Linked DNA regions of Homo sapiens: regions 2, 3, 4 and 5 are each linked to region 1. Evidence: fine-mapped expression QTL. A gene starts in region 1. Each other region holds a variant in brackets. All regions are shown on one strand. Distances are between the middles of the regions.

Evidence for each region.
Region 2: its variant is fine-mapped to the expression of CREB5 in whole blood (INTERVAL, PIP 0.94).
Region 3: its variant is fine-mapped to the expression of CREB5 in tibial nerve (GTEx, PIP 0.99).
Region 4: its variant is fine-mapped to the expression of CREB5 in whole blood (TOPMed, PIP above 0.99). The same link has a PIP of 0.9 or more in blood mononuclear cells, monocytes, monocytes after interferon gamma and neutrophils.
Region 5: its variant is fine-mapped to the expression of CREB5 in fibroblasts (GTEx, PIP above 0.99).

The regions. Positions count from the first base shown.
Region 1 is chr7:28,409,015-28,415,397 of GRCh38, forward strand. CREB5 (cAMP responsive element binding protein 5) reads left to right here and starts at 3,504. Exons shown (of 11, transcript NM_182898.4): 1 at 3,504-3,903. The coding sequence starts at 3,901. RefSeq lists silencers at 1-190, 159-228 and an enhancer at 3,501-3,590.
Region 2 is chr7:28,674,412-28,680,794 of GRCh38, forward strand. All of the region lies in intron 5 of CREB5 (cAMP responsive element binding protein 5), which reads left to right. Among named protein-coding and RNA genes, the nearest start is that of CREB5, 270 kb to the left of the region's middle. The variant C/T (reference allele first, on the strand shown) is at 3,002.
Region 3 is chr7:28,529,596-28,535,978 of GRCh38, forward strand. The region is part of intron 4 of CREB5 (cAMP responsive element binding protein 5); the gene reads left to right. Among named protein-coding and RNA genes, the nearest start is that of CREB5, 120 kb to the left of the region's middle. The variant A/G (reference allele first, on the strand shown) is at 3,313.
Region 4 is chr7:28,681,962-28,688,344 of GRCh38, forward strand. The region is part of intron 5 of CREB5 (cAMP responsive element binding protein 5); the gene reads left to right. Among named protein-coding and RNA genes, the nearest start is that of CREB5, 270 kb to the left of the region's middle. RefSeq lists enhancers at 3,192-3,241, 3,458-3,966 and a silencer at 3,350-3,519. The variant G/T (reference allele first, on the strand shown) is at 2,796.
Region 5 is chr7:28,312,521-28,318,903 of GRCh38, forward strand. It overlaps a transcript of CREB5 not described here. Among named protein-coding and RNA genes, the nearest start is that of CREB5, 97 kb to the right of the region's middle. The variant T/C (reference allele first, on the strand shown) is at 3,613.

The DNA of each region.
Region 1 (6,383 bases):
CCACGCCCGCGCCTCCTCCGTGGTCTTGTCTGAAACCATAAGGATTGTTTCCAAGCTGACTCACACCACTAATGTCAGGGAGCCGTGTCACACGGCGCTGGGCTCTGCAAGCTGTTGCTTGCGCAGTCGCCCCCGCCGCTGCCGCTCCCGGGCGGGTGCACCAGGGTCCGCGCGGGCGGGGCGGGGTCGGGGCGGGACCGGGGCGGGGCCTGCCCCCTCGACGCGCCGGCCCCGCCCCTCGCTCCGTCCCTCCCCAGCGGACCGCAATGATTTAGAAGTTCAGGAATCCCACGTGACGTCACCGGGGGGGTGATGTAATGCACTCTAAATAGAATGTATTGTAATCTTTGCTCAGTCCAACGTGGTCCCTTCACCCGGGCTCCGCTCTTGCCTTCTCCACACTTGTTTGGTAAGTTCCTAAAAATACGGCTCGGCCACTTCTGGGGCTTTTGCATTTAGCCACTTTTGTTGCACTTGCCGCAGGAGCCATCTCGGGAGTGTACTTGTTTGCAGGGGTTGGTTCTCGGCAGCAGCCGCGAGGTTACTTGGTCCAGTGGGCAGGTCACAGGGCAAGGAGTAGGGAAGATGCGATGCATTTTTTTCTGGAGGGTGATCTGTGTTTGTAAACATTTTGGCGGACCAGAGGGAAGTCCGGCCCCGAGTGCTGGTAGACTGTGGAATTCGGCTGTGTCCTGAGGCCACCCTAGAGACCCCGCGCCGCGTGAGTGCCGGAGCGCTCGGTGGCCGCCGCGCCGCGCGCCTGGAGGGATGCTAACGTGGAGCCGGCGCCGAGTCCGCCCGGCGTGCGTGCGTGTGTGGGAGCGCGCGAGTCCCCTGACGCGGGGACCAGTTATGAATCGGGGGTGTGTGTTTGCCTCCAGAGACCTGGCAAGGTGCGGAGCCCTCCAGAAGTGCGGTCAAGCGGCAGCGGAGACGGCGAGCCAGGAACCTCCCCCCGCGTCCCCAGCTTCCCAGCGTGGCGGCGGAACCCCCGGAGAAAGTTTGCAAACTTCCAGCGGGCGCGGCGAGGACGCCGGGTCACCTAGGGGGCGGGTGGGCGCGCGCGCAGGGGGCTCGCTCTCCCCGGTGCGGAGCTGCAGCTGCCACCTCTCCCGCCGGGCTGCCGGCTGCAGCGGGTGGGCGCGCGCCCGGGGAGGGGAGGTCGCCCTCGGAGGGCGCTTGGCTTTCGCTCCAGGCGCTCCGGGCTGGAGAGCGGCGAGGCTCCGTCCGCTCCAGTCCACTCCTCCGGCCGCCTCCTGCCTCCGCTGCTTTCTTGCTGGCATCGTTACCTCTTCCCGGCCGCTGCCCCAAATGACAGCTCCGGCTCGAGCTTTGGCGGCGCCCAGGCAATTCCCAAGACCTGGCGGCGGAGTCTCCCCCTGCGGCAGATTCTCGGCAGAATCACTTGAACTTTTCACGAAGTTCTTAGAGGGGCAAGATGCGAAGGAAGGAACCAAGGAGATGTTTTCTCTCAGCAGCTGCATCCCGCTTCTTCTTTGCCATAGATTTATTTTTAAGGGGCGTCTGGTAGATAAAGCCCTAGACCTTGTCCACACTCTCACCCCCATCCCCAACTTTCCCTGGACCGGTGCCGCCCCCACTTGATGCTTGCTCAAGGCCGGGGACTGGAGCGGGCTACTTGTATATTTCGTTGTCAGTCTGCAGAATGTGTTTGATTTTTATTTTTCCCTCCTTCTCTGACATGTGTCAAGGAATAAAGACTGGATACAGGTCCATTACGTCATTCTGCAGGCCAGTAAGTGTTTGATTAACGGCTTGAGCTCCTCAAGGGTTCAGGAGCTTAGAATGCTGACAAAGCAACTCTGCTTTGCATCCCCCTACCCTCCCCACAACACACTCGTGCAATCGCCGGCTCCCTGGGCATCTTTATTGCCCTCTCTTCCCAGCCCCTCCCTCTCCACCACTCCCCCGTCTACACCGTTATCACTCTAGCCCCGCCCCCGCCTTTTTACAGCTTTCCCTGGGGCGAGCACGGTCCCTGGAGTGTGGGTAAAAGCTTCTGGGGTCTGAGGGGACCACTGTACCTGATCAGCGCGCAATCCGCCCTTTTGTATTATTTAAGAAAGGCACCAGTAAGCCTTCTCCTCTAGGGCGAAAATGCTTAGTCCTGATAGAAAAGGCAAATCAGGAAATGTTTGCAAGCGTTATGATAATACTCTGTCCTCGTGGTGGTGACTTAGGAAAGCAATACACCCACTGCAAACAAAGTATTTCACTTTACGTAGTGCCTGCCCTTTAGCAGAAGAGGGATGCTGACAAAATCAGGTTTAGCTGAAAGGATCAAGACTAAACGTTTCATTTCCAAAGTGAGGGAATGTGAGTCGTTGAACCTAAACTTCCATACAATAAATTGCTGCGTGCGTTAGTTTCTAGCTCTTAACCTTAAGTTTCTATGTTGAAAGAGGAAGTCGAATACGTAAGTCATTGAACTGAGTCAGAACCTCCGTATCTGGCAGTTGAAATAAAGACCCTGTGTATGACTTGTTGCAAGGGATCAAAGTAAAAAGAACCCTCGGTGTGGGGGGTGGGGGGGTGGGGGCGTGAGGGAGGTGTGCAGCAGAAATTAAATTTAAAAAAGTATTAACAGAGTTTTGGATAGAGGGAGAGAGGGGATTGGAGTGGTCCCTGATTTGGAGTTGGTGAAAACTAAATAAAGAAAAGTTTATATTGCAAATATGTGGGAATTTCTTGAAGAACACATGTTTTCTTATAATTAGATCTACTTTCTTCAAAGCGAAAGCCATGCTGTAGGGTAGGCATTTGTGAAACTCCTGTCTGGGGTCTAATTGACATCCTTCCCCAAGTCTGTGGCAGGATTTAGTATTTATTCACATCTAGAGATGAAATAGTGTAACCTCCACACAATATATGTGCATCGAAAATGTTGAACTTCTTGTTTGTGATGCATAGACTTAAAGGAAAAAAAATGGCCCAGTCATGGGCACTGGAAAGTGTGATTAATGATCAGTGATTTAGTGATCAGTGATTAGTGGTTTTATTCAAACTGTTACCTCTGACCAGAAGCACACATCAGAGGATTAACAGGCTCTTTAGATAAATGCTCATTAGTGGAAGGGGAAAAGCAAAGATAATAGGCATGCACCCAGGGACAACTTTCGAAGAAAATCATTCCCGTCTTCAGAATAATAAGCTCTATTAACAGAAAGCCCTTTTAATTTAAAACTTGCTTTTATCTTGTAAATCAAAGTTAGATGTAAAAGTTTGTAGTGCCATTATAACCTAAATTTTCCCATATCCACTAGATGTGGATTATCTCAGTAGCGATATTTTTTTTTATTTAAACAAACAATTGGACCTTTAGAGCAGCTGAACCCTGACAAGTTCTTAACTCCCAGGGTTTGAAAGTGTCCCCCCTTCTAGCATGGAGATTGCAGCTTGCTAACTAGATGGCGCACTGTTATTTGGTGTTCTCTGCTGCGTAGCGCAGGAGTATAAACTGAGCATGTAGCTGCTTGCGAGGTGTTCTTCAACATTTACAACAAAGTTGATTCTGTGTAGGGTTGGAGGCTAGACAGTTCCACAAATTTTTAGTCACATTTTCCATGTCAGTTAAATCTAGGGAGTTCAAGACTACTGGAAAAATTAGTCTCATTACTAAAAGAAACTTAGAGAACGAGGGAGGTACCAGAGTCTAGGAGGTACCTCTGGGTTGCAGAAGTAATTGTAAAATACCAGACCTGTTCTTTTTACTAAAAGCTAGTTTCACTATCTTCTGGTCTGAAATACTGAGGCAAATACTCAAGACTTATTTTCTTCCTAATCTTGCTGGTGAAACAGAAGTTACTAGAAAGAAAGGAAGAAAAAACTTGATTTGGTGACTGCAGGAAGCAACACGTTGCTGCTTTTATTCTACAGATAATGGTAAGGATGATGTTTATTATGCATATTAAACAGAGAGAAAACTTTGCACTTAGTTAAATAGAACCAATGTTGTATTTTCATAGATGGAATTCAGAAATGGAGTTTAGATTTTGCACAAAATTTTAATGTTGCTTTTGTCAGTTTCCTGGGACTTATAGCATTTTATGTGGAAGGATGTGTGTGTGTGTGTGTGTGTGTGTGTGTGTGTGAATAAGACTATTATTTCCCAGGTAAAATATGTTCAGAAGCATATGAACTACAGTGGGGAAGCTATGGAGCATGTTAAGTAATGTGTCAAGCATGAATTCCCCTTTCTGTGAGGTTTCATGAATCACTTCAATAAGTATTTAAGTTTTAATAAGAAAGTTCTTGAAAAAGAAACCTAAAAATTAAAAAAAAACAATAAAACAGTTTTCCGCATTCAAACCTAGATGTGTATGCCCCTGAAGGATGATTCTATGGGTTGAATATCAACTATTACTTTAGTTCTAAAACTTAAAAGAAGAAGTATAATAAAACTCACTTGTGTCTCCCCAGAAATGTTTCTCATTTTCCTTTGCTTATAGCATTTTATATGGATCTCTTATTTTTAAATCCTTACTGATTATAGTGGTTTTTATTTTTCAACTTAACTCATAGTAAACATATTTGAAAATATCTCCAAGCCCACTATTTTTAATGTAAATTGCTGGTGCCGATAAATTGCCTGTCAATTAGCGGTCAGTCGTGACCTTATATAGTTGATACCTGAGAAGATAGTTTATTAGAACATTCCAACAAAAAATTGGAAACCATGCCCTTATTTCTAGATCTCTGTTATGTCACAGCTTTTATTTGAATAGGTGGCTAAATGAATGGTAGTTTGTCACAGAGACTTTTCCTGCATAGATTTTCAATTCTAGTAAGTTTAAGATTTTTGTTACAATGATTTGTCAGTTTCCCACACCTGCACATTCAAAACCAATCAATCATGGAGTTTCCATGATGGCAAGTTCCTAGACTCCCAATTTCTTACTATAATCTACTTTTTAGCAATGAGGTATCACAATCCTATAATATTTTCTTGTCATTGGAGTTTACTTCTTACTAAGCTAAAAATTATTTTGTCGGTGTGTAGTGTTCACTAGATCACTAAGATGTGAACTTTGTATTTGTAGTTCATTTTCTTCTGGTTATGTTGTTGGATTAAAATTGGGATTTGAGTGGACTTATTATTTTTGTCATCTTTTCTTTCTTCTCCTTCTCCTTCTCCTTCTTCTTCTTCTAAGCAATGCAGTTAGTCACAAAATTAATGTGATCCTGGCTGGTGTTTCCCATCTATATGCTTCTTTTGCTTCTTACAAATTGGATTTCTACAGCAATTTAAGGTCTTTTTTTTTTTTAGAGGCAGCTTTCTTGGATGAAGATGGAACAGTGATCTCAGTCAATTCATTATCTTGTCCACTTTGACTACCAGCTGTATTATGGGAATCAACCAATGCTTAATTAGTGTTTAAAAATTTAAATCTATGACTATTTCTCTGAATTCTATTTAAGAAAATTATACAATTGAGATAAGGTAATAAACTGGGGGGCAATTGCCTTAAATATCTAAGTGTGAGGAAGAAGCACTTTCAGATATGCTAAACAGACTTAAAGACACAGAAGACCCTTTTTGTGTTGCTATTTGTAAAATAAGTAAGCTATCTATTTTGTGGCAATGCTTTAAATACAAAGTCTGGCACTTTAAAAATGACATCATGTTTAATGTTTTCACTAAAGAATTATTACATTTCGTAATTAGGAAAAAAATGAGCAATTAGTGTTTTTTGAGTATCCATTAGTATTCCATTGTTGAGAATCACAAATCATAGATTTAACATAGGAATTTTTTTTTTTATAAAAAGAGAGAAGCCTTTTAGAAATTTCCAGATAGTGATAGCACTCTTCCAGAAACCCCACTAAAATTTTTGAAGCTCTTATTGAGGACTCTGGGACTGTCACAGTAAAAGATAAAGTTTAGGATAAATTCTTGAACCCATAAAAGATATTATATTGACATTTCAATATTTCTTTTTTCCAAGTTCACTGTATTGCCTTCCCCCTCACCCCCTGAGAAATAGATCAGAATCAGTTTATCACTTTAAAAATATGTATTTCAGCTGCTTTCTTCTATTTCCTTAAGGTTACATTTCTGATCTTAACCCTAAAAAGATTTTAGGATTTCAATCCTTAACAAGGATTGAAAACTACCAGGCTGGCGTTTGACTAGAACTGATTTTAGAGGGAGTTCTTTTAGGCCTAGAGATTCTGATGGTGAGTTACAAAGGCTTATGGCTTTACACGGATGGTAGGGCTAGGGGAGGGCCTCGGATTGATAGACCAATTTTTCATTTTACAGAAGAGACCCCTGGCTCACCCAAGGCCCAGAGCTAGAGAGAGCCAAACCAGGCTGAGAAGCCTGGTCCCTGCCTCCAGGTCGGGTGCTCCTGCCATAAATG
Region 2 (6,383 bases), 270 kb after region 1:
CTGTCCACTTCCTGGTTTTCCTCCCAGGTCGCTGGCTAATCCTTCTCTGCCCACCTCTTACTGTGAGAGTATCCTGCATGACTCATTTCTGAGATTTACACTGCCTATGGCCTTAAAGAAAGTCAATCAGAATTGATTCCCATTGGATGTCTTCAGCGCAGACCAACCTGCTGAGCTCAGATGTTCCTGTCCCTCTGTTCTCCTGATTCCTCTGCCTGTATGTCCAAAACAAAACTCTGGACGTTTTCAAACCACATGTGATCACAGTCGTCTTCACCACAGTTGGCACAAGCCTGTATCACTACTCATCCAGACTATTGCAAAATATCTTACCTGTTGTCCAATCTCGAATTCTTTCCCTCTGACAGTCTGTTCTCCACACAGCAATTAATGCAATTTTCTTAAAATAAAAATCAGATTATGCTAGTCCCTTCTTTAGACTTTCCAGTGGCTTTTTCTCACCAATTAAAATAGAAACTCTGTAGTGACTTGCAATACTCCACCTACCTCTCCCAGGTTACCGCTTTTCCCTCTCTTTCTCCTTCCCTCCAAGGTCTTCTTTCTTTTCCTGCATGAAACACACCAATTTCCTTCCTGCCTTAGGGCATTTATCTAGGTGGTTCTCTCTGTATACCTCTTCCCTGTAGCCATATGTGGCTCCTTCTCACTAATCAATCCTCAGGTAAAATGTCATCTCTTTGGAGGGGAGTTGCCTAAATATTTGATCTAAGAGTCTTCACCACATCCAATGCTCCCTCTCATCACCATGTTTTATTTTCTTTGTAGCCATTATCACGATCTAAAGTAAGAGTATTTGCTGTTTACGTGTTGATTATCTCTTTCGACCCATTAGAATGCTGGTTCCCTGAGGTCTGGCATCTCGTTTGTTTTGTTTCCTTCTGTGTCTCTGAAATAGAGCCAAGAACTCAACAGCATCCTTGTACAAAACACAGCCCCCAGCATCTTTTGTCCTGGTGTTTCAGAGCCCACCTTCAGAACTTATGACTTTGGTTTTCCCTGCGTTATCAGTATATGAAATAAGGAAAATTTGTCTTCCTCAGCTAAAGTCTTTTGTGAGATGACTTGAAACCAGTGAGGATTAAGAGGGTATCAGGAAATGCAGAGAGAGGTAGTGAAAGGGGAGACGAGAGAGAAACAAAAGGATCTCAATTGTGCTGAGGTTTGGCCAGGCCAGGAGGGATCAAGTAACACCAAATAGCCTTTGTTAAAATAACAGAAACTTTGACAAATTAAGACGGAACTGCCTCAGACTGAGTTATGGGGCCTTCTAGACTCAAAACCACCTACCCTTGCAAAGTGGTGCAGTGTGGATCCTGTTTCAGCTTGGGATAAGGTGCTCATATGGGAGATCCTGTTTCAGCTTGGGATAAGGTGCATTGCTCTGGCAATGCAGAGTTGAGATGAGGAAGACTCTGGGTTCGCCTATAAGAAGTCAACACCAAGGACATTTTTACCAAATGGAAAGGGCGAGTTACAGGCATTTATAGCTTATTTATTTCTGAAAGTCTCTAGAATTTTAAAGAGGATTACTGCCCCAAAGCTAATTCCTTCAGATATTTGTGTCATTCCTAACAATCACTATCTCTTCATTCTCCATGTCTTGGAGAGTCTCTTCTGTCAACACAAAGCTCCTCTGAGTAAGGGGGTATAAAAATCTCCAGCAAGGGTCAGGATGAAATAGGCTTGGTGGCCCTAGGCTAGAAGATAGTACATGACCAAAGAACTAGTTAGGAGGCCTCTTTGCTTTCATCATAACTATCATTATTTTTCAGGTTCACTGCCTCTTCCTCCAAATCTACACACAGATTATTGCATTATTACTGTTACTATTTTCCCAGACATTCGGCACCTATCAAGGTTTTTCATTTTGTCTATTCCCTGGGCTTGTGTGTGTGCTGTCTGTCTCCGTGGCTGCTTCTGTGGCGCTATGACAGTATTAATATGACAAAGAGTTGGTCAAATAGAAATTATGTAAGGAGTCTCATTGTAATTCAGACACTTAATTTCCACTTAGCAGGAGATGCAGCCCTTGATGACTCACAGGTCGCGATCCTCATTCTCCTTCCTGGGTCACTCGTGTTTTTGGGTCTGTGGATAGACTGGCCCTTTCTCCTCTCAAGTGCTGTAGCTCTTTACAAGCCTACAAATTCAAGACTTTTGAAAAACATTGATAACATCCTTTTGGGAGAGTGATGGGTGAAGATCCCCAGAGAAGGAAACTCTGTGCAATCATTAGTATCCAGAGGCCACTGTTGATGTGTAACTAAAGTTCAAGAAAATAATCAAGGTATGCCAGAGTCGTGGTAGATGGGTACCTTGCAATAGACTTCTCCGTTACCACTGGTATCCCTTCCCCCATCCCAGCGTACCCTCCTCATGATTGTCACTTTAGGAGACTAGGAATATTGCAAAATAAACATCTGGAAATGTTGATAGTAAACATAGAAGAGAAATGTCTTGCAAAACTAGCCACAGGTCAGGAAACCCTAATCTTATCATGGGTCCTGGAGACCATAATGCCATAGACTGTTCAGATGGGTGTTATGTTACTGTGAACACAGATGTTTTCTTTCCATCCATTGTGGGCATCCTGTTTTGGAAAAGTCACTATAGCCAATGTCTAAAGGCTTGATCACTTTAGGACAGATTACTAAATACTTTTTATCTTAAAATAGAAGAGGGGAAAGGAAATCACAGCTCCTTTAGAGCATGGACAGCAGAGACATATGAATGTATTTATATATTTTTTTCATTTACGTTATCAACTTAATTAATTTATTTATAAAATTTCCATGACCATAGGATGACCACGTAGAAGTGTGGACTATGGATCACTAGCATCAAAATCTCTGGGGAGTTTTGCTTAAAAATACATATTCTGTCATAGCACCACAGAAATAAGGCCCCACCTTGACCTATATAATCTCCAAGGTAATACCTGGAGACCTACGTTTTAATCTATTCCCCAGACATTCTCAGG[C/T]ACACCACATCTGAGAACCACTGACTGATGTTTGCTGGTTGGAGTGCCAGGCCAAGGGTCAGCCTTCAAGGGATTGAGATTCATGTCTTCGTGCCTGCTTTTCTTTACCTGTAAAAGAGCATAGCTTGAAGTTTAATACAAAGTGAGCATACTTTTTCTCTTGGGGGTTTTTAACCTGGGGTCCATGGTTAAAAGGAGGAGTCAGAGTGTTCATTAGATTTTTCAAGGAGGATTATTGCCCAAGAAAAGTATATTCTAACACCAGCTTAAATGCATGCTTTCCAGTTTGGGTGGGTGCTAAAAGAAAGGAATTGGCCGAGTGTGGTGGCACATACCTGTACTGTAGTTCCAGCTACGTGGGAGGCTGACGTGGGAATATAACTTGAGCTCAGGAGTTTGAGGCTACAGAGAGCTATGATTGTGCCTGTGAACAGCCACTTCACTCCAGCCTGGGCAATGCAGTGAGACCCCATCTCTAAAAATGAAAGAAAGAGAGAAAGAGAGAGAGAAAGAAAGGGCACTGGGATTGGCCCAGACAGTGCATGAATCTCACTTTCCTTCCCATTTCTATTAATAAAGGAAGAATTTTCAACTTTGTAAGAAATAAGAAATTTAGAATCTTTTTACTCCTAAATCTATAGAACACCTTGGACATCATAATATCTACTTTTCCTCTTGTAAGAATGGAAAAGAGGCTGGGTGCAGTGGCTCACGCCTGTAATCCCAGAACTTTGGGAGGCCAAGGCGGGTGGATTACTTGAGGTCAGGAGTTCAAGACCAGCCTGGCCCACATGGTGAAACCCCGTCCCTACTAAGAATGCAAAAATTAGCTGGGTGTGGTGGTGTGCGCCTGTAGCCCCAGGCACTTGGGAGGCTGAGGTGGGAGAATTGCTTGAACCCCGGAGGTGGAGGTTGCAGTGAGCCAAGACGGCACCACTACACTCCAGCCTGGGCGACAGAGTGAGACTCTGCTCAAAAAAAATAAAAATAAAAATAAAAATAAAAGGAAAATACAAGCCTGCATTATTTATAAATCATATAGTACTCCATGTCTAGAAAAATCAAAACTTATACCAAAGCATTTAAAAGAGTCACTATGATCATTTTATTAAAGTTTAGAGATGAATTTTACCATAAAGCAGGATTAACTGCACCTTTCTCTCCAGGATTCTGGTGTAAATAGAGAAACCACAGTCATGTATGGGCCTGAGAGGGACAGTAGAATGTGGAAGTGGGTTTGGAAACCAAAATATTATGTCAGCAGTTTTCTCTTTCATTTATTCACCCTTATCAAAACCAACTTTTTAACTCAGGGGCCCAGTTAATAAAAACATAGATAATTTCATTTGGAAGACCCAAGAGCTTCATGTTTGGGGTTTAAAAAAAATTCTTCTCATCCCCTCCGGGCAAAAGTGTTGGAGGGCGAATTCTCCTTGCAGAAACCCTCTTAATAAATCAGTGCTGGTGAACTTCTCTGCTCAGTGTAAGAGAAGGTCAGTTATTAGATAGACACAGAGCTCTACAGCTGGAATCCTTGTGGAAAGAAATGAAACCACAAATACAATTCCTTAGTTTAAGCTTGCCTTTTTATTTCTAATACCTTCAAAACCTCTTCAAACTCATTTTTACTTTTGTAGTTCTTTTTTTTTTTTTTTTTCATTTAAGCATGTTTTAACAATGAAAACAGCCAGCGGAGTATATTTTCAGGGTTATCCTGCAGATACGTAAGTAATCCTTTTCTGAGGGCCTTTATGTGGAATTGCAAAGTGCTGAGGGGAGACAGAGGGAGAATATTCAGAAAGCAGATACTGCAGTGTTTTGAACTTATCATGTGCAAAGGGACAACATTTTTCCACTGATTATGAAAGTCCCCATGAACTGCTTTTCCAGATAAAAATTCTCAGCAAATGATGGTCAGCTTCTGGCAGCCCCAAGTTTTCCTCTCTGTGAAATGGGGAGACCCACCAGGGCAGCCTTGGAAACCAGTGGCTTAGGGGTTCCAGGAAAGAGGCAGGCATTTACTTTGCAAGTTTGGCTCAGAGTGTGGGCCCTGATGAGATTTCAGGGTGTAAAAGGGAGGGGACGAAGACCAGGTGAGCAGTGTAAGGCCTTCTTAGGACCCGAGGGAAGTGGCCTTCTACATTTCTTACTTTTTGATGTTATGCCACAAAAATGCTCTGTTCTTCTCTGCCTCTACTCCAACCCTCATCCCTTGGAAAATCTTCCTGGTCAGAATCATGATGTTCCTAAGATGGTTGTCTTCCCACATTGCCTCTCCTGATTCCAGGGCCGGTAACAGTGCTTGCTTCTGGACACATGGATTAACCCAGGTCATGAGGAACACCTGGATTATAAAAGGTGTTAGTGTATCAGTACAAAACAGCGAATGGTCGCATTCCCAACTTTGGTATCAGACAACTTTTAGTTCAGCTCTCAGCTCACAGTGGCTAATTGAGAAGAAGGAAAGGCTGATGAAAGCTGACACTAAGGAAGAGTCTAGTCTGTTGCAGGCATCATTCTCCATCTCCCCAAAGAGCCAGGCAGGCCCAGAGCTTCACCTGATATTTTTCTACTAACCCTACCCATGCTCATGAGTACACAGAGTAGAAAATTATCTCCAAACGAGGCTGGGACTAAGGGGCACAAATGAGCCCCCTATGGCTCAACATTTAAGGGGGCAATTATTCTCAGGGTTGGACAATTGCAGACCTGCACCTGAGAGTGAGTACCTCCTTAAATTTTGCACCCTAGGCACCTCACTTGCTTCAACCTGGACTGGTCCAGTCACCACCCTTGGTCAAAGGGGAAAGTAGGAATTTGGTTGATAATCTCCTTTAACCAAGGTTCCCCACAGAGCCTCCAGGAAAGGCCTCTTTCTTGGACATCATCAGTTGGGTTGTCCACCTCTCCCAAGCATAACTGCTCTGAGCCAGTCTTGATCAGCTACTATGCCTTGTCTTGGCTCCACTCAACACCAGAACATGAATCAGTGTAGTTAGTCTGACAACATCATTAGGCTCCAATCCCGTATAAACTTTTACCCACAAAAGTTTGGACCTCCTTGGCCGAGCACTATGGCTCACACCTGTAATCCCAGCACTTTGGAAGGCCAAGCTGGGAAGATCACTTGGGTCCAAGAGTTCAAGACCAGCCCAGGCAACATAGGGAGACTTTGTCTCTACAAAATGTAAACAAAATTAGCCAAGCATGGTGGTGCACACCTGTAGTTCCAGCTACTCAGAAGGCCGAGGTGGGGGAATCATTTGAGCCCAGGAGGTCAAGGCTACAGTGAACTGAAATCATGCCACTGCACTCCAGCCTAGGCAACAGAACAAGACACTGTATCAACCTATCTCAAAAAAAAAAAAAAAAAATTGGACCT
Region 3 (6,383 bases), 120 kb after region 1:
CAAGGTGGGAAAATAAAGAACAAAAACTGTCTGTCTCTCTTCTTCCCAACCTGATTTCCTTGCTCTATGGCCCTCTGAGAGGGAGAGCAAGTCAGAAGGATTTCCAGAATAATTTCTTCCCACCCAAATGTGGGGAAATCAAGTGAAAGCTGCACAGAGACAGCTGGAAGACTGTCATGTTTTGCTTGTTTGTTTCCTCAACCCAACTTCAAGACATGCTCAGCTCCAACACACTTTGCTTTACCTTTCTATACGTTAATCTGCCAGGAAAGTTTCTTCTACGGTGAGGCTATTTGGGACACCTGATAATCACACCAGCTATTGTTTACTGAGCACCTACTATTTGCCAGATATCTTGCAAAATTATCTCTTATCATCACAGCTCCATGAGGCAGGTTTTATCACTTATAATTTTCCTGATAAGAAATGAACTCAGAGATTAAGCTATTTGTCCTTAGTCATCCAATGGCAGAGCTGGGATTTAAACTCAAGACTGCCCAATTCTAAAAGTCCCCTCTGACTTTGGAAGGAGCAGTGGTGAATAGAACAGGAGCAAAAGCAATTCAGAGTCGCTTTTGTGATTGCTTTTGAATTGGTACACACTGTCACAGGCTCCGGATCCAGGCTTCTGATCCAACCCACATTGGTTTTCCTCGCCCGTCAGATAAGAGGAGCCATGCTTGACCTGGAAGGTGTTGAAAGACATGCTGCTGTGTGCAGCTTATCAAAGGGAACAAGGTTCACCATCACTGAGACCTAGGAAGGGGCCGTGGTCCAGCTGGACCCTAGTCGAGCTGCTCAGGGGCAGCTTGGGCTGTCGTCCAGGGTGCACGAAGCCATAGCCAATGTCAAGGGCTCCTAATGTCCAGGCAGGAAACTGTGACTGAAAAGCTGAAAAAACATATGATCCCATAAAAAGCTGCCTTTGGGGAAACAAGCCATTAGTCAGCCTTATTTATTTTTCCTTCTTGCTGCAAAGTTCAATACAGATGAAGGAGCTGCGATTATCATATAAAAGGCTATGCAAAATGGCCCTCCCTCTACGCTGCTGAAGAAAACTTTACCCTGGCTTTTCGCCATAGTTAGCTTTGTTTGTGTTCTTCAGATTCCGAGTCCTTTGACCACAGTTGTGATGGCCCAAGTAGAAGCGCAAGTGTGTCTCAAAATAAACAAGCAGTGCTGGAACTCTCTAGAGTCCCCACTCATCTCCACCCGCAGTCCTGCCTTTTATCCTGGCTGATGATGGAGGCCAGAGGAAAGGGATAGTGGTGGCCTTATTAAGACAAGATCTTCTGCGGGAAAAATATGCTTAATGAGCTTAGGAAAAACCTTGTGGTCGTGGAATGTAATAAAATTTCCATTTTCTTGGGTGAGATCAGGAAACCTTGACTGTCTATTCTGAGTTTTTGCCAGTTTTACTGGGGAATGTGCTTTTTGAAGGTCAAATGTTGTTTTTTTTTCCCAGTGGGTGGCGGGGAAGAGGCACAATATAATGTTTTGGGGAAAGCCCCATGGTCAATCCATGGGTGCAAAGTAACCAGGCCTGCTTGTCTTATATAGTCTCTTGGTCTCTAGGTTTTTTTTTCTTTTCATCTCTTAATTCCCCATGGCTTCGGTAATAAAGTACCCTAGACTGGGTGGCTTAGAACAACAGAAATGTGTTGCCTCACAGCTCTGGATGCTTGAAGTCCGAGATCAAGGTGTTGGCAAGGCTGATTTCTTCTGAGAGCTTTGAAGGAGGCACTGCTCCAAGCCTCCCTCCTGGCTTCGAGTGTTTTGCTGGCCATCTCTGGTGTTACTTGTAGATGCATCACTCCAGTCTCCACCTTCATGTTCATATGGTGTTCATCCTGTGTGTGTCTGTGTCCACATTTCCCCTTTTCATAAGGACACCACTCATGATAGATTGGGAGCCTACCCTCCTCCGGAATGACCTCATCTTAACTAATTACATCTGTGATGACCCTGTTGCCAAACAAGGTCACATTCTGAGGTCCTGGGGATTAGAACATCAATATATGAATTTGAAAAGGAGGGATACAATGCAACACGTAACACCATCTCATAGACTCATTAAACTTTTACTTTACATAGGAATTCTGAAACCAGGCCAACAGAGAGGGGTATGGAGACCCTAACTAAAAACTGAGGCTAGCCGGGCGTGGGGGCTCACGCCTGTAATCCCAGCACTTAGGGAGGCTGAGGTGGGCAGATCACGAGGTCAGGAGATCGAGACCATCCTGGCTAACATGGTGAAACCCTGTCTCTATTAAAATACAAAAAATTAGCCGGGTGTGGTGGCACGCACCTGTACTCCCAGCTACTCGGGAGGCTGAGGTAGGAGAATCGTTTGAACCCAGGAGGCGGAGGTTGCAGTGAGCTGAGATTGTGCCACTGCACTCCAGCCTGGCAACGGAGCAAGACTCCGTCTCAAAAAATAAATAAAAACTGAGGCTAAAACTTTGTCAGTGGAAAATTATTACTTCAACGCAAGACACCAACATTTGTGAAACAGGGTTCTGTAGGGGTTGGGGAAGCCAGAGCCATGCTATGAGGACACTCAAGCAGCCCTGTGGAGAGGTCCACGTGGCCAGGAGCTGAAGCCCCCTGCCAAACAGCTATAGGAGAGACTCATCTTGGAAGCAGATCCTCCAGTCCCGGTCAAACCTTCAGATGAATATAGCCCTGGCTGATATCTTGACTGCAACCTCATAAGAGTGCCTGAGCCAGGACCATCCAGCTAAGCTGCTGCTGAATTCCTGACATAGAGAAACCGTGAGATAATAAATGTTGTTTTAAGCCACGAAATTTTGTGGTAATTTGTTATGCAGCAGCTGCATTGCAAAATTGTTATCCAGAGATCTAATACAGCTCCTGGCACCCCAACCCTGGAAAAGCAAATCTGCCTCTACTTTGTGAACAGTGTCATCGTGACAACTTCAGAGGGAAAGAGTCCCAGACCAACAGTGCCTCGGGTCTCGTGGATCGGAAGGTTTTCTTTGTTTGTTTGTTTGTTTTTGTTTTTTAAGGAAATGGAGAAAAAGGAACTAACAAAGTAATTGAAAATTGGTATATTTTATTTACTACAACTACAAACACATTAGGCTAAAGCAAGAACTTTGTTCATTTGATCAGCAGGATAACATAGTGGTAAGAGCACAGAATTCCAAGCCAAAAGATCTATGTTTGTATCCCAGCTTTTGCCAGCTATGTAATCATAGGAAGTTACTATACCTCTCACCCTAAGTGTTCTCATCTGTCAAATGGGATAACAGTAATAGCACCAACCCCTTAGACAAGAGTTACTGTGGG[A/G]AATAACTTAGAACTGTGTTTAGCACATAATAAGATGTGAGAACACAGGAGTGGGAAGATCCACTTATGACATAAAATGTCCCACAGTTAGAGACATAGGATGCTTGTTGAAAGAGCCAGGCTTGGATCATGAGGTCAGGAGTTCAAGACCAGCCTGACCATGATGGTGAAACCCTGTCTCTACTGAAAATACAAAAATTAGCCGGGTGTGGTGGTGCACACTGGAAGGCGGAGGTAGCAGTGAGCCGATATCGTACCATTGCACTCCAGCCTGGGCAACAGAGCAAGACTCCATCTCAAAAAGAAAAAAAGAAAGAGCCAGCCTTTAAGGAAACGGGAAGTCAAAGCTTGTGTAACGAAGCAAGACCAGACTTTTTAAATCTACCTCCCTTAACCTTTATAAACATGTGGACATCATAAACTTTAGGGAAAAAAAGTAATTGTCCCCAGTGACAGAAGGGATGGCGAGACCGCATAACTTGTTCCGGGCCATAAGACACATGGACACTCTGGTGACCATACCTGTCCCCGCACAGTTGCTGTCCTTTCCTGTCGTGCGTACCTGCACTTTGCATGGAGACACTGACTTCAGTCATACTGTCAGTAAGTCATTTCAGAAAGCACCACAGGATTTCCGGAAGGACATAGCATTTTAAAATTCTACTGGGTAAGAACTAAGTTCCCCACTTATAATTTCTAAAAGGCTAAGGGTTATTTTTACGGGTTTTTGAGCTCTCCATTTTACATCATGTCCTCTGAGAAGTTTTCAATGAGCTCAGTCCTGTATTGGGCAGAGGCTGCCTCCTCTTCTGTTTTAAAGGAGCTTGAAATTCTTTTACTTCTTGATACAGCAACCAAACCTGAATATATTGTGAGGTTCCCATCCCAAGTCAGAGCTCTTGAGGGGAATCATCCTTGTCCTCCTCTTCTTCCTCCTCTTCTCCTAAATGGTGCTACATAGGCTGGCTTAACATCTTTTTTTGAAATAAAAACCAAGTGTAAACATGAGTCAGAATGACAGGGCATATGCAGGACTCCAACATTTACTTTTGACATGAGTTGATTTTCAGTTATGTTCTGAGAACCTAGATCCTGTCATCCCAACCCTGGAAAAGCAAATCTGTATCTATTTTGTGAACACTATGATCCTGACAACACTGGGGGGAAGAGTCTCAGACCCACAGGGCCTCAGGCCTCAGGAATAGGAATTTCCAGAAGAAAAAAATAAGGACGCTTTGATCCACTTGCCCTTCGTATTATTGTCTCCCTGTGCAATTTGCTGGAGAATTTCCCACTGGCTCTTGGCTCATTTTCAAATTGGAGTGCAGTCTTTCAGAGATTACTCTGTGTGCTGAAAAACAAGGAAGTCTTTATTGAGTAGGATGAGGAGGCCCTGCCTTCTAGGAAGGGCAATAGATGCTCTGGCCTCTGTGTCTCAGCCCACCCTGCGTCCTCCCCCGCGAGCCCTCTCCAGCTCAGCCCCTCCCTCTCCCAGTGGAGGAGAAGGGCTGGGTGGACCCCTTGCCTTAGGCTGAAGGGAAAACATCTTGTAAGCTATGTAGCAATTGAGGCAATCCCTCCTGTAATCGTGGGGCCTCTCAGAGTTATTACTGAGCAAGATGACAATTCCAGCCAGCATCCCAGTGTAACAGGGCACTTCTTCTGCAGCCACTTTTCTCCAAACATGAGAATTTTCAAACAGGAGTCTCAGATAATATTTCCTTCTCTTCATCTCGACTTCCTCTTTCATTTACCTTACTTTCCTTCACTTATGCTTGTTTAAAAACCCTGGATTTTCAGACACCATCTGCATCATCATCTTAACAAATATTTATGTAGTGCTTATAGAAATTAATTTTTGTAATCCTCACAATAACCCTATGAGGTACACGCTATTATGTCCCCATTTTGGAGACCAGAAAACAGGCCCAGAGGGATAAAGTGACTTTCTCAGGGTAACAGGCCTTCTAAGTGAGAAAGCCCAGGTTTGAACCTAATAGTTTGACTCTGGAGTCTGAGTTCTCAAGGCCCTGATGTCCCGTATCACCTCCCAGTTATTTATTTATATTTAGAAATGTACTCATCCTTGGCCATGTGTTTCTTACCTGAGGGCTTGCGGACTGCAGCTCGCATCTCTGGTTCCTGCTGGTCCTGGTGAATTAGGCAATGGGATATTGTGGCCCCTTTGCTGTCCCATGGTCACCCCATCTACACCGGCTCTTTAAGGCCCAGTGTGGTCACACGAAGGCAGCCTTACAAGGAAGGCTAGGTCGGGCCCAATTTGGTAACAGACTCAAGTCTTTTTGCAGGAACATTCATACTTGTGGATTACATAGTAGAGGTTTTTCCTCTACTGGCTGCAAATAGTCCTCTGTGGTTAAACCAATTTCTTTAGGAAAAGTGAAAGGAGGGAGGGAGGGAGGGAAGGAAAGAAGGAGGGAAGGATGGAAGGGAGGAAAGGTGGAAGGGAGGAAGGGAGGAGGAGGGAAGGAAAGAAGGAAGAAGAGAGGGAGGCAGGGAAGGAAGGAGAGAAGGAAGGAAAAAATGGGAGTAGAAGTCTCATAATATTTCCTTCTCTTCATCTCGACTTCCTCTTTCATTTACCTTACTTTCCTTCACTTATGCTTGTTTAAAAACCCTGGATTTTCAGACACTATATCATCTTAACAAATATTTATGTAGTGGTTATACAAATTAATTTGTATAGGAGAGAAAGAGGGAGGAAGGAAAAAGAGAAGGGAAGGAAGGAAGAGAAAAGAGAAAGGGCAAGAAGGAAGGAAGGAAAAAGGAAGAGAAGTAATGGAAAGGAGAAAAGAAGGAAGAAAGGGAGAAAAGAATACTATTGATGTGGTGAGCATGAATTTTCTAGGAAAGGTTCTTTCTGCCCTCCTAGGCTAACCATTTCTATTGCACTCCTTTTTTTCTCCTTGGTTGGGCTGTGCTAACTTCTGTCCCACCAAAAGCCTACATGGTAGAACTTGGTTATGTTCTTCAGGTTTCCAATCTAAAAGGACGGAAAATGAAAAAAAGAGAAAACTGTGTTACAACTTAATTAAAACACATCAGGTCAA
Region 4 (6,383 bases), 270 kb after region 1:
AAATGGCTCTTGTGACCTCTTAATATCCACCCCCAAAGGTTTCCTGATGCCTCCACCATTATAAATTCATTCCTTTGTTTGAGACACATTCAGCATTGCCACATCCGTGAATTACAAATAGGTTTTGACACAGGAAAGGCCAGTGAATTGCCTAAGGGTACTTAGTGCCAGGGTTGGGGTATAGGAGGTGCAGTAGTTACACGACAGGAGTCACCAAGGGCAGATCACTCCCTTGTCTTCTCTCTGGGAGCACCTGGAGCTGACTTCAGCAGGGCTGACAATTTAAGCCAGTGAATCCTGCCTGCACATGGTTCAGGATGCATGCTGCACCAGGTCACCTAGGCGGCCCCTCATCCTCTGTCCACTGTGAAAACACGGGACACCCAGGTCGAAGGGAATGCTGAATGACACCATGTGGGTGTGCAGTGGTCTGTGACCAGAGGGTTCACTGGAAGCAATTTGCAAAGGAGGACTTAGAAAACCACCTGGATGGTTATTGTAAATTAAAAAAGGAAGAGATGCCACTTTTTTCTGAATAATTTTTAATACTAGGTTTATGGCTGGGTACATGTGATAGTCATTACAGCTTATTTAACTCTGAAATTATCTGGCCCCTCAAACTCCACCGGGACTGTAGAAATCTTGGGTTAAATTTTAAAAACAACATTTGAAAGAAGATGATATACTTTTCCTTGAGGAGAATAAATTCAAACCTAAAAGTGGGGGGGGGGGGAAACCCCAGCTCTCTCTAGGAAGGATCTCCATTGTTTCTCATATTTGCTATGTTTCTCATAACGTGTTTGAGCTCAGAAATTCACCCAGGCACACAAAAGGTCTACTCTAGTTGGCTGTTGAGCCCCTCCATCCCTGCAATCCAAGTTGTGCCTTTTCTATTGGGTTATTTGGAAAGAGTCCAAAAGCATTCTGAACTCTGAGCTCAAATCTCAAAGGTTTCCACTTCTTCGGAGCCGAACATTTCATCAGGGGCTGGGAGTGTGTGAGTGAGTTACACCGAACAGCTGCGCGGTACCCACCACCCTCTCCCCAAGGATGACACGCTCTGCAAAGGAGGGTGTTGTAAGCATTCCTGAGCAAGCCAGCTAATCTGGAGACCTAGCCTGTTGGCCGGGGGCTACTTCTAAGAAGCCTCCCTCTGGAATTACAGCATCTTATGACTTCTATCTACGAAGCCCCCCTTCTTCAGAGGAGCAGCTAGGACATGGGGTAGGGGAGAAGGCCAAATGGGTGAAAAAGGAATCTCTTGAGTCAGAGGGGCATTTCTTTTTGGGAACAGGATCTTGTCTCTCTTTAGCTGCTCACAGGAAGGAAAATGGGAAAGTAGGGCTTCTTTTCAAGTGGGGAGGCACCCAGCAGCCAGTGGAATGCCTGATTTGGAAGGGGCAGGAGGGAATAGTTATGTCCCGAACAACAAGTGCAAATGTAAATATGCAGACCTTTGAACTCTGAAATTGATTTCAATTCAGGCCAGCACTCCAAAGTTGTTTTATTGGGATGTCGAAGTGTTCTGGCACGTTGGTGGCTTAACGGCGTCATCATCAGACCCAGACATTTCTGGGTCCTTGGCATTTGTCTGGGTTTTAGAAACACTGTACCCATTGGCGATGTCACTCCCTGATCAGAGGCACACTGGCCACCTTCAAACCTCTTGTTCTCTTACTCCTCCTGGCAGAAGCAATGATGCTGGCGGGTCTCATCTGAGATCCGTGCCCGGCATTGGCTGAAGCTATCATCTCCTTTGTTACTTCCCAAGCAAGGCACAGGAAAGCCATCTTTACATCACCTCTATTTAAAGCACAGGGTCCCTTTTGCCTATGTCACTGAAAAACAGCAGAAGCCTGGTATCTAGTGGATTCACCCCGGCCCTCTAATGTGGTATAAGGAAAATCCTACAGAGAACATTTTCCCATTGAGCTTACAAAAAGATGTAAATTTGGAAAACTCTACCACATATCCATTTTGCACCAAAAATAGTAACATAAATAAAACATTTAAATAAGAAAACTAAAGTGGGGAGGGGAGATTTGGGGGGTAGGGAAGGGAAAGTGAAAGTCCATAGCTTGATATTAACCAAGATGGTCAATGGCTCATTTAAAAAGGAAAAAGTAGCTTATGCAAAATCTTGCCAACCTGCCTTGAAGTGTAAAGGCTTGTAGAAGTTATTGAAAATTTTGTTTTATTTATTCCCCTTAGCAGAAGAAAAATCAATGTCTGCTTGGCAAGTCAGACGTAAATGAGTTATACAGGCCACTGACATGGTGGACCAAACTTTATAACAACCACATTTGCCGCTGTCAGGCCACAGGCTTCAGTGGCGCCAGCTGTAATTATGGCTGATCACCTCTAATTCAGAGCTGCCTGCCTTGATAAAGGTGTCACTCGGAGCTACTGTGGCATCAGCATCAATTGAGGATGTCAAGCCAAAGGGCAGCTTGCTGGAGAAAGCACTTCCCCACCCCAACCCCCAGGGTCCTGGAGACCCTTGGGCAAATATTGCTTTTTAACTCTTCACCCTGAGTACGGCAACACTCCCTGAAGCTGTGATTTAAATTCCAGGGGATTCAGATGAATATCCCTGACCTCCATCAGTGGACGTCTTTAATAAGCTGAGAGATTTCTCCAAAAACACAGTTTAGAAGTCAAGATCCTCTGTGCTTTGCAACGTGCAGAGACAATGTTTGTCTTATCTACCTGATTCATTGGCCACAAAAGGCATTAGGGGCAATAGACTGTAGCACAAGCCATGGTCATTTTTGGAAAAGGAAAAAAAAATTGCA[G/T]CTTCATGCCTTTCTTCTGCTTTTGTGGTATTTAAAAAAAATTCTAGCGAACTTCCCATTTTCATGTTACTTTTTTCTTTTTGAAGGAAACATGAAGTGTGGGGAGAAATAGCAAAACGGAGAGATGATGGGGTTAAAAAGCCCTGCTAATAGAGTAGTGTCTGGACTGTTGTCATTGTCGTGGTGGAGCCCTGAGTGGGGAGGTGTGAAGTGAGGGGTAGAATTCAGCCATTAAAAAGGCTTCACTGTCATTTGTGAAGGATCATGCTTGACTGCCCCCACCTCCCCAGGCTGTTTTTCCTCACTCTGTAATTAAAAAAGAGACACACATACTGTCTGTTCTCCTCTTTAAAGTCACAGACGGCCCCACCCACACCAGCACCCCCTCCAGCGAGTTGAGTTGTGGGGGCACAGCCTGTCTTTCATTTTAAGGGAGAACTTGTCTTCCTTCCCTCTCCTTTGGAAGGTTCACCTGAGGGTGGAGTGCTAATCTCAGAAAGGCAAGTTTTGTGTTTTGTGGCTGGGGTCTTTTTCCTTTAGCACCTGACAGGGTGACCCATAGGGGCCAAGGGAGAAGTGACTGTGATTTCACAGCCCTTGGTGGCTCCAGACACGGGCACGTGTTTGGACCAGAAGTGGTTTTGCCCTCGCTGACAGGGAGGTCAGATGCGAGAAGTCTCCGGAGGGCTGGTGGTTGGCATTCAGCAACAGAAAATCCCATCCAGCTCCAGGAAAAAAGGGCCCTGGGCGATGGAAACCCTGTCACCTGGTTCTGAACCAAAGCCCAAGCTGCTAACTGAGGTTAGTTTTTCACACTCAGACCTTCCAACCTGCCATCTTTCACTCCCTGCTTCCCCATCTCTACACGTGTCTTGATGTTATTTCCCTTTCTCCAAACACAGGGCACTCTTTTTTTTTTTTTTTTTTAACCAGTATTTTTTTTTTGTTTCCAGCAGAACCAGCTGACCCCTGCCTGCAGAACTCCGGGTCCCTCTTGGAGCTCTCTGATGGCAGCTGTAGGGCCATCCCCAGCGGCACTGTTTCCCCCTTTGTTTACCCGTTTCTAAGGGCAAGTGCACCACGAAGGCTCTCCGAGCCTGGAACTCAGCCTGGGGCTGTTTTGGTTACATTGAAGTTTTTGCTTCAGTTCTGCCAGATTTAAGTGGTGACTTCACTAGCACTGAGCTAAAAAGGAGAAGGGGGAGGAGGGCGAGACCAGGAGAAAGAGAGCAAGTGAGCGAGAGCCCAGCCGGAGGGAGAGCCAGAGCTAGGCGCAAAAGAAGGGCCAGCACATTACATCATCGCTTGGCCTGGAATCAAATGGGAAGGATATGACTCACTCAAGCTAGTTAAGCTTTGGCTCAAATTCTACACACACTCATTCCAGAGCTCTCATGTTCTGCACCTCAGGAGGGAATTCAGCCTCAGTGATGTCCATGAGGTTTGTTTTTAATTTTATTTTCTTTTCTCCTGATTTTATAGATTTTTTTTGCCCCTACTGCCTTCTGTTTTTGAGCCTTCGTCCTCCTCCTCCTCCTCTTCATTTTCTCCCCCTTCTCCCTTTCTGCCCGTCTTTGTTTCTCCTCTTCTTCCTTCTCCTCTTTCCCCAGCCCCTCCGCTCCTCTTCTTGCCCGAAGAGGCATTTCTTTTCACTTCGATCAGAGTTTTTGTTCTAGCACAGAGACCTGAATGAGTTGAACAGAGGCCGGGTTGGAGGAAAAAAGAAAAAAAAAAAAAAGCAGAGCAAACCAAAGCAACCAGAGCAAAAGGGCCACAAATAAAGAGCGAAGCGAGAAAGAGCAAACTCGGGCGAAGTTTCTTTGCTGCGGTGTCGCTCCTAATCGGAGGAGACAGGGAGAGAGTTAAAATGCAGGAACCAATCGCTTGAATGGTGATGTAATGCAAGAACCGAAGGGTAGTTAAGTAATGTGAGAGCGAGGGGGTCAGGGTTGCAAAGCATTTACCTGCTCTCAAGGGGTTTTCAGTTTATTATCAATTGCAGTGACTGTAACCGGCTTCAGACTGCAATCTCTAATTATTCACAGACGCTCCTTTTTTATCTTTTATTATTAAAAGTAAAACTATATTATGGTATTTTAAAATAACACGATATTATCACAGCTGTGTATTATTTTCTGCCAGGATTCTCTCTCTCTGTTTTTTAAATGGCTTAAAACTGTTGTCTTTTCATAAAAGGTGGAAGTGATGGTGTGGTGGTTGGTTGGGGGGTTGGGGGGGCGATTTTTGAGTGTAACTGGTGAATTGTAAATGACTGGAAAACTGTGTGTTGTATGAAAAGTGAATGATTGTGCTGTTCCATTTATTATTAAGAATATACTGCAGCTTTTAAAAGTAATAGATGATGATCCTCAAAAGTAGTTATAGCCTTTCCCCTATTATTTCAGTGAAGGTTAACAGCAATTGTGCATTTGCTTGAGCATGTTGACATTCTGTTGTTCCACGTGCTAATTAATCCGGTGCTATCTTTAAGACTTTTATGTTCTTGAATTAATTTTTTAGATGATATGCTTCAGTAGTGAGGGGGCGATGATGAAGACTTCTTGATTGAGTTGTCTTAGAAACAGTTAATATTTCAGAGTAAGAAATTAACAGGAAATACAGGGAGAGGGGGCAAAGGATTGTGTTCTTAATGTTTTAAGGATCTCGTGTACTCAGAGAGAGAGACTTTGATGTTTTGAAAATTATTACCACATTTCTGTTTCATAGAATAGATTTCGTATTGTGATATGCTGCCTGAGTTGGGTGCTTTCTGACACCATCCGGCATTACTAGATAGTAATAAACTGAAACCCACTAAAACAAGAGGGCAAACACTTTCTCATTCTGGGAACTTCAAAACTTCTCTTGGGCTTATTTAGACGTGATCATCCTACAGCTGGATGCATATTGAGGCATGCGGCACATACCAGAAAGGTGTCTATTTATTTAACGCATGTTTTGGATATCATTCATTATGACTTTATGGATCTTCTCTCTTTCCTCCTTTTTTGGGCAGAGGTGGAAGTGGGGAGCAGAGGGGAGAAGTAATTTTTGGAGGAAGTAGCATGATGTGTGAGGAGGCCTGAGTGTTGATTCTGATGCTTGACCTTGAGCAAATCACTTAAACCATCTGGGCACTACTCTAAAGAGCAGGAAAGGGCAAGGTGGGCTAGAAGCTCCTCCCCGCATGGGGAACCAATCTTAGATGATCTCTGGAGTCTCTTTCCACTCGAAAGTTCTATGTTTATATCCATGTTCTATACAAAAGTTTGCTACAGAGTATTTAGCATAGCTTTTCAGAGAAAAGTACATTTGAAATTCAGGATGAATTAGTACTTGAAATGAATGGGGGAGGATGGACAGGAGTATATCTTTCCCCACTTTGAAGTTTGATCTTTATTTGTTTACTTCTTGCTTTTTGGCAAAAAAACAAACATGGTAAACTTTTTAGTTTTCAAATGCTACCTTTGAGGAGACCTCAATGAGATAAATTACCTAGGTGAGACTGCCAAAAAGAGTGGCAGAGTAGACAAGGGGGAGAATTCACCTGCCCAGAAACTTTTCTAAAAGATCCCGCACATCCTTCAG
Region 5 (6,383 bases), 96 kb before region 1:
GCGGGTGGAGGCGAAGGAACGTGGGTGCTGAGTCTGGCATTTACTGGCTCTGTGAACTTGGACAAGTCACTCAACCATTTTGAGGCTTTTTCATCTGTAAACATGGGGATGGTAATAATACCCATCTCATAAGGTTGTTATGGAGACTAAATGAGATAATTAACGTGAAAGTGCCTGGTAAAGGTAGGTCCAGGTGTCATCTCCAGAAATTAGTCCCAGGTATTGGTATTTTGTTTTATTTTAAAGCTCCTCGGGCCATTCTAATGTCAGAGTTTATAACAATTGCAGTAATGTATTCCAGTTCTCTTTCCATAACTCATAGTGTTGCCAGTGGTCAAGCCTGAGTGTTGGTAGAGCATCAGTTTCTCATTCCAAAAAGAAAATAATGCAGACCAAAGAACCTTATGAGACTTGTGAAATTACAGAATTGAATGGCCATCCAGTTCAATCTCCTATCTGATGGTTGAATGCTCCCTGCAGTATTCTTGACCAGTGGTAGTTTAGGTCGGTGTTTCTCAAGCTCCAGCAGACATTGGAGTTACTAAAACTGAGAGTGCTGAACCTCAATCCCAGAGTTTCTGAATTAGTAGGTCTGGGACGGGTCTTGAGAAATTTCATTTCTAGTATGTACGCAGCTGTTATTGATACTGCTCGTCTGGGCACCACTGTTTGAGAACCACTGATCTAGATGGTGCTTGAATACCTCTAGTGTCAGAGAACTTCCTGCTTCATGAGCCTGCTCATGCCATCTTCCGAGAGCCTGAAGCACGAACACACTTAATCTGATGGAAAGTTCCTTCTCATATGAACCTGAAACCTGTTTTCCTATCCCTTTTACCTATAGGCTGTTTGTCTTGCCCTTTTGACAGTAGAGTTAAATTTTATTCATCATAGTTTTAACAGAAAGTATTTTTATTACTTTTGGTCTGTGATTCACTGTCCTAAGGATAAAAGACAACCTGACTGTATTGGCAGTCTGATACTATGGCAAAAACCTCAAGCCATTCTAAGGAGGAAAGAATCTGATCTATTCCTGGGAAAACAACTTCAATTGAGCAAATGTATTTTGAGTGCCCAGTGTGTTTCGGGGATGGGAGATGTACAGGTGAACAACCAGTTCAGGGATTTCTGTGGAAGGTGGGAATAACCACTGAAAAACCACTCCTCACTCAATGGATGTAGATTTCTAGTGATGGACAACTCAATACCCCTTCACGGTTTTAACACAGCTTTGTGGACTTGTGACCATTTCAGCAACGAAATGCATATTTTGGCACACACGCCACTTGCTGAAGAAATAAAAATTTAATAGACATATATCTGAAAGTTTCTAGCACTTCAGGGAGATTTTGAGATTTATTCTAGCATACCATACAATGAGTTTTATTGGGAGCTGCAAAAATATATAATTTTAATAGAAATAGGTAAGCATAAAACATTGACACCACTGAAAAAATATTGGCCATGCCAAAGCAACCCCCATAAAAGTTTGCAGAATGTTTCAGAAAAGAATAAGAGAATTATTAAGGGCTGATTTTTCTAGTGGAGCTTTGGCCAGGGTCTCATTTTTAAGGAAACATATCTATGTTTCCAAGGAAAAAGCAGGTATTCACTGCCTTTGAAGTGCAGCGATCCTGATGTTTCTTGTAGCTATGTGAAGAAAGATCATGGAGATTGTTTTGTGCAGGTTTGGTGAAAAAGCTTAATTAATGATTAAAAGCACAACAGTCCTGTTAAACCAGACATGTTTTAGGAAAACACTTCAAGATGAGATGACAGTGCCCTCCTACATTCAAAGGCTGGAAATTCAAGTATTAGAACATTCATTACTTTTTCCTTGGAGATGGTGCTGTCTTTATCATCCATCTTCATCACTTGCTCCAAGTTAAAATGGTTGATTTCTTGCTGCTGATTATAGGGCATGAATCTTAGTCCTATGGAGCTTGAAAGCACGATGGCTTTGTGTTCTTCAGTATCTCTGAGCTTCATTTTCATTGTCTGGTCAAAACCAGGAGAGTAACATCTGCCACACAGATTATTGTGATATATAATGTGAAGATACAGACAACACACACAGCACAGTGTCTGATGACCAAGACATGCCAGTATCATAGTTCATATACTTTGGGGTAAGGCTTAGTGAGCAGCGACACACTACCCCAAGGGAAAGAAAACCAGAAGGGCACTTCCTGAAGGGGAATCTTGCTCCAGGTCCCCAGTGTCTCTTTACTGAGACGCTTTACTGAGACAGTTCTTCCCCAACTGGATCACCGGTGTGCAATTTGACCTTCAGAAGTATGTTGTAGAAAAGTGCTGTACGGTCAGTAAATTTGGCAACTGCTGCCAATGGGCACATCAGCGTGTTGAAGGCTGTAGAAAGCCTAACAGTAGAGAAAACTGTTCAACTTTGTTTAATGTAGCATTTTTCTAACCATATTCCAGTGACAGGAACATATTTTCCTGCCTCAAGACTGGTATGCCTCAAAGCACTGTTTGGGAGCTGCTAATCCAAGCCCTTGAAGTCAGTAGGAGATAAGGGTATCTTATCTTATCCTTGGTGTTTAGTGTGGTCCCAGCCTATACAAGGTATGGAACAGACGCTGGGTGAATAAATGGCTCAATGTATATGTCAATTTCCTGATGATTCTTGCCAAGGCAACGACTTCCTGTGGGCACAATTCATTTGTATTGTCACCACCAACAGGGACTACAGCACAAATCCTTCCCACATAAGCTGGCATTCCTACTATGTTGCCAGTTTAATGAATTTTGTTAAAAACAGACTTCTGACCAGCCAGGGTCCTGATTTGACAATTTTATTTTTTCGGAAAAAGTCACTATGATGACTCTGTTTGCAGCAGTTGTCCGAAGCTGAGGTTGCCTTCTGTTAGCCGCTTCTCTTGGTTGGACCTGAGCAATGGGCAGGTGCCAGAGAACTCTGGACAAGAAGACGCTTCCAGCCGGGTGCTGCAGAAAACTTGTTCTGCAAAAGCAGACAGGAGACACTGAATGAAGGACTCTGTTCTCCAACAACAGATTTCATCATTGTGAGGTTCACATGGGGTGTGTTTTCATTTTGTTTTTCCCTACAGTTTCAATCTTCTTTCCTCCCAGAAAGGGTTCTTTTGTGTTTGACCTCGTCCCGACGCGTTGGAAAACGTCCTGCTGCACCAGCTCTTAATTCACCTTCCTGTGTGGACTTGCCTCGGTGGCAAAGTCACACTCATTAACAAGTTCTTCCTCCCTGGGCTCTGCACATCACCCAGCTATATATCTTCCAATGTGTTCCCTTCTGTGGGGAAATGAGCTATTGCCAGAGTCGGGCTCTGGGACACGGAGGACTGGCTCACTGGCTGGCTGCCCTGGTGATAATCTGGAAGTGATCAGTGGAGGAAAAAGATAACACAGCTGTGATTTTCAAGGAGACAGGTCCTGGTTTTTTTTACCTGCCAACCACATTTCCTCCGGGGAGTTTTTCGGCAAGTGCTGTAAAAGAGACCTTTTAATCTTGTTTCAAAAACCTGGAGACCCAAGTTGTTCCAGATCTTGAGTAGAAAACAGGCCGGGGAAATGTGCATTGCCGAGGAGGCGGGTGGGATGCCATTGCGATTC[T/C]GTGGCTTAGTTTTGCATGTGCTTGAGAGGACTTGGTGAACTTGGCCTTCAAGTGCTTTCACCCACAAGTATGATATGGTTTGGGCTGGGGGTGGAGGGTGTTGCAGAGGTTGATGAACGTAAATCTGTCAGTGGGTGATTTTCAGACATCTGCCTGGAGCACTTGCAGACAAACATTGGAGTCATTGGAGCCAGGGAAATGCCTGACAATGCCTGGGAAAACCTGAGCCAAAAAGCTGGCCCGGGGACACTGCTGGGCCAGAAAAAAAGGATGTGTCAGTAATAAATAGTTTATAATTTAAATTGGGAGCAAAAAGGAGAGAGGAAAAAAAGAAAGAGACAAATCAATCAGGATAGGGAGCTTGGGAACTAAATATTGTCTTTGTTAGGAGTCAGTGAATGCTGCAGAAATGCACCGCCAGATCCTGGCAGTGTCTGCCATCCATTGGGCATCTCGTATCGCTCCTGCCAAAAGCCTGAGCAACAAGGCCCAGGAAGTCCCCAGTGTGTGGTTTCAGAGATTTACTCAACTAGGGCATTTCATTTTTCTTAGTGTATAACTGGCAGAGTTACATCCTATTTTCTAGCTGAAAATTCTACTGCTTAGTACAGCATGATTGAGTCAACAGCTCTAACTGTGGTTACATTTCAGAATACTTTCAAAATCTCCTCACTGATTCACAGTGCAGAATGTATATGGTACATGGCAGCTGGGTTCCTGTGGCTTCTCCAAGCCTCCATATCCTAACCTTTAAAAGGGGGATGATAATACTTGTCTTGAAGATTGTTGAAAGAGCAGATACACTGTTGGGTCAACAATAAATATGACTTCGCCTACCATAAAATGTAAGATTTTCATTCTGAAGGTAAGTCTTGATTTAATGGTTGTCTTCTCTGGCTGGCATACTTGATACTTATAGAACTGACGCCCACATAGGTACTTGGCAGAAATACAAAAGGAGACCCATCCCATCTCCTCCCTGGCAGTATTTATCTGATGATTTTTTGCATTCTGCTGCCCATATTTCTGGTTCAGTTTCAGTTTCTCCCTGTTGCATGGTGTAAACTGACATCTCACACAGAAAAGGAGGGTTCAGATTACCCCAGGAAAGTGTAATGCAGAGAACTCTTCATCAGTGTGAAACCAGGGTGGGCACCAGCAGTGAAAACCTTTGAATCAGAGGTGGATTTCTGGCTGTTGTTTACCACGTGACAAAGAGCAAACAGGCAGTTTTTCCTTCATTCCACCTGGGGTATCCCATAAACTTCAAAGTTCAAAACACACTTTGAGTGGGCAGGGGAAGAGGCATCTTCCTAATAGCCTTGACTTCCTCATCTCTGAATTTCTAAGGCAGCAATAGTTGACGCTGTGGTATAGGCATCAAGAGGCAAAAGAACACAGGAGCTAAAAGCAATGGATTTGCATTTATTCAGACAGACGTGGCTTAAAGCTCAGCTTCACAATCTACAATTATGTAATTTGGGGCATATTCATTTACTTGTTTGATTCCTATTTATCTTCTTCCTTCATTGTGTTGAGAGAATTAAATTAGGTAATCTATGTAATTAGCACAGTGCACTGCACATTGGTAAACATCAGTAAATATTTTTCAATAATAATGTACAGTGTGTTTTATATTATTGTTCCGTACATGTCAGGCTAATCTCTTCATTTCAGCTCTAAGCACCTTAGGAGAAGGACACTGTCTCTATTTGTTGAGTTCTGTATGGAATGACTGCAGTGTAATTGTACCATAGAGTAGATGGCCATTCAGTATTTGAAACATTGGTCAACTATCAGCAGAGAAAGATGGCTCTTGAATCTATTTAAAGCTCTTTAAGTCCTTTAAAGAAATTTCCAAATACACTTCTGAAATTTGCCAGTAATACCAAAACAATATTCCCAAATTTCCAATAAATTCTTATATTTCTAGCCAATTGTTTTCCAAATATATGAAGTTATCTGATTTTAAAACCTGCCAGACATTCCTAGTATTTATTCCTAGAATTTTAAGTTTGGAATGATTCTGACATTCCAATCTACCACAGCCTATGTTTCTTCTACAAATCCTATGATATTAAGCTCATTCCCTCAGTTCAGATTACCACAGAGGGCTGTTCAATTTGATACATGAATGTTGTATTATTGACGTAGCCAATCTGCAATGTATTGGTTCCAAGAACAGGCGGCAATAATGATGCCTCAGCAAATAAGATGCAGATGTTCTAGGAATATCCATGCAAGACAAAAGTGTGCTGCAAAAATGAATAGGTGCTACTTGTAAAAGTATACAAAATTATTTTCTAAGTTTCAAAATATGTTTACTGCATGCCTTGAGGCATTGGTGGGTTAAATTGAAAATGTATTATTCATTTTAGAAAAAGTATGACTAACAATACACATATTTCCAACATCACTGATTCTCTATAGAGCCTCCCTTCTCTGCTACAATGCCTCACTCTCAGGGTTGCCTGAGACAGGAGTTGGACCACATGGCTTGACCCAGGAGGCATGTTCAGGCTGAAAGAGACTGAGAGACAGAACCAGTTCCTGGTTCAGGGATCGTGCCTAAAATGTCCTGCATCTAGTTCTACAGAATGAAATACTAGACTCTTAGAAGAGGCACAGAATATCATCGTAAATACAGCATCCTATGCTGCTACATTGAAGAGGAAGAATTTCAAGGCTCATCAAAATCAAATTGCTTAGGCTTCTGTAGATTGATAATATAACACCTGGAAATAATTATGTGGGGAAGAAAAACAAAAAG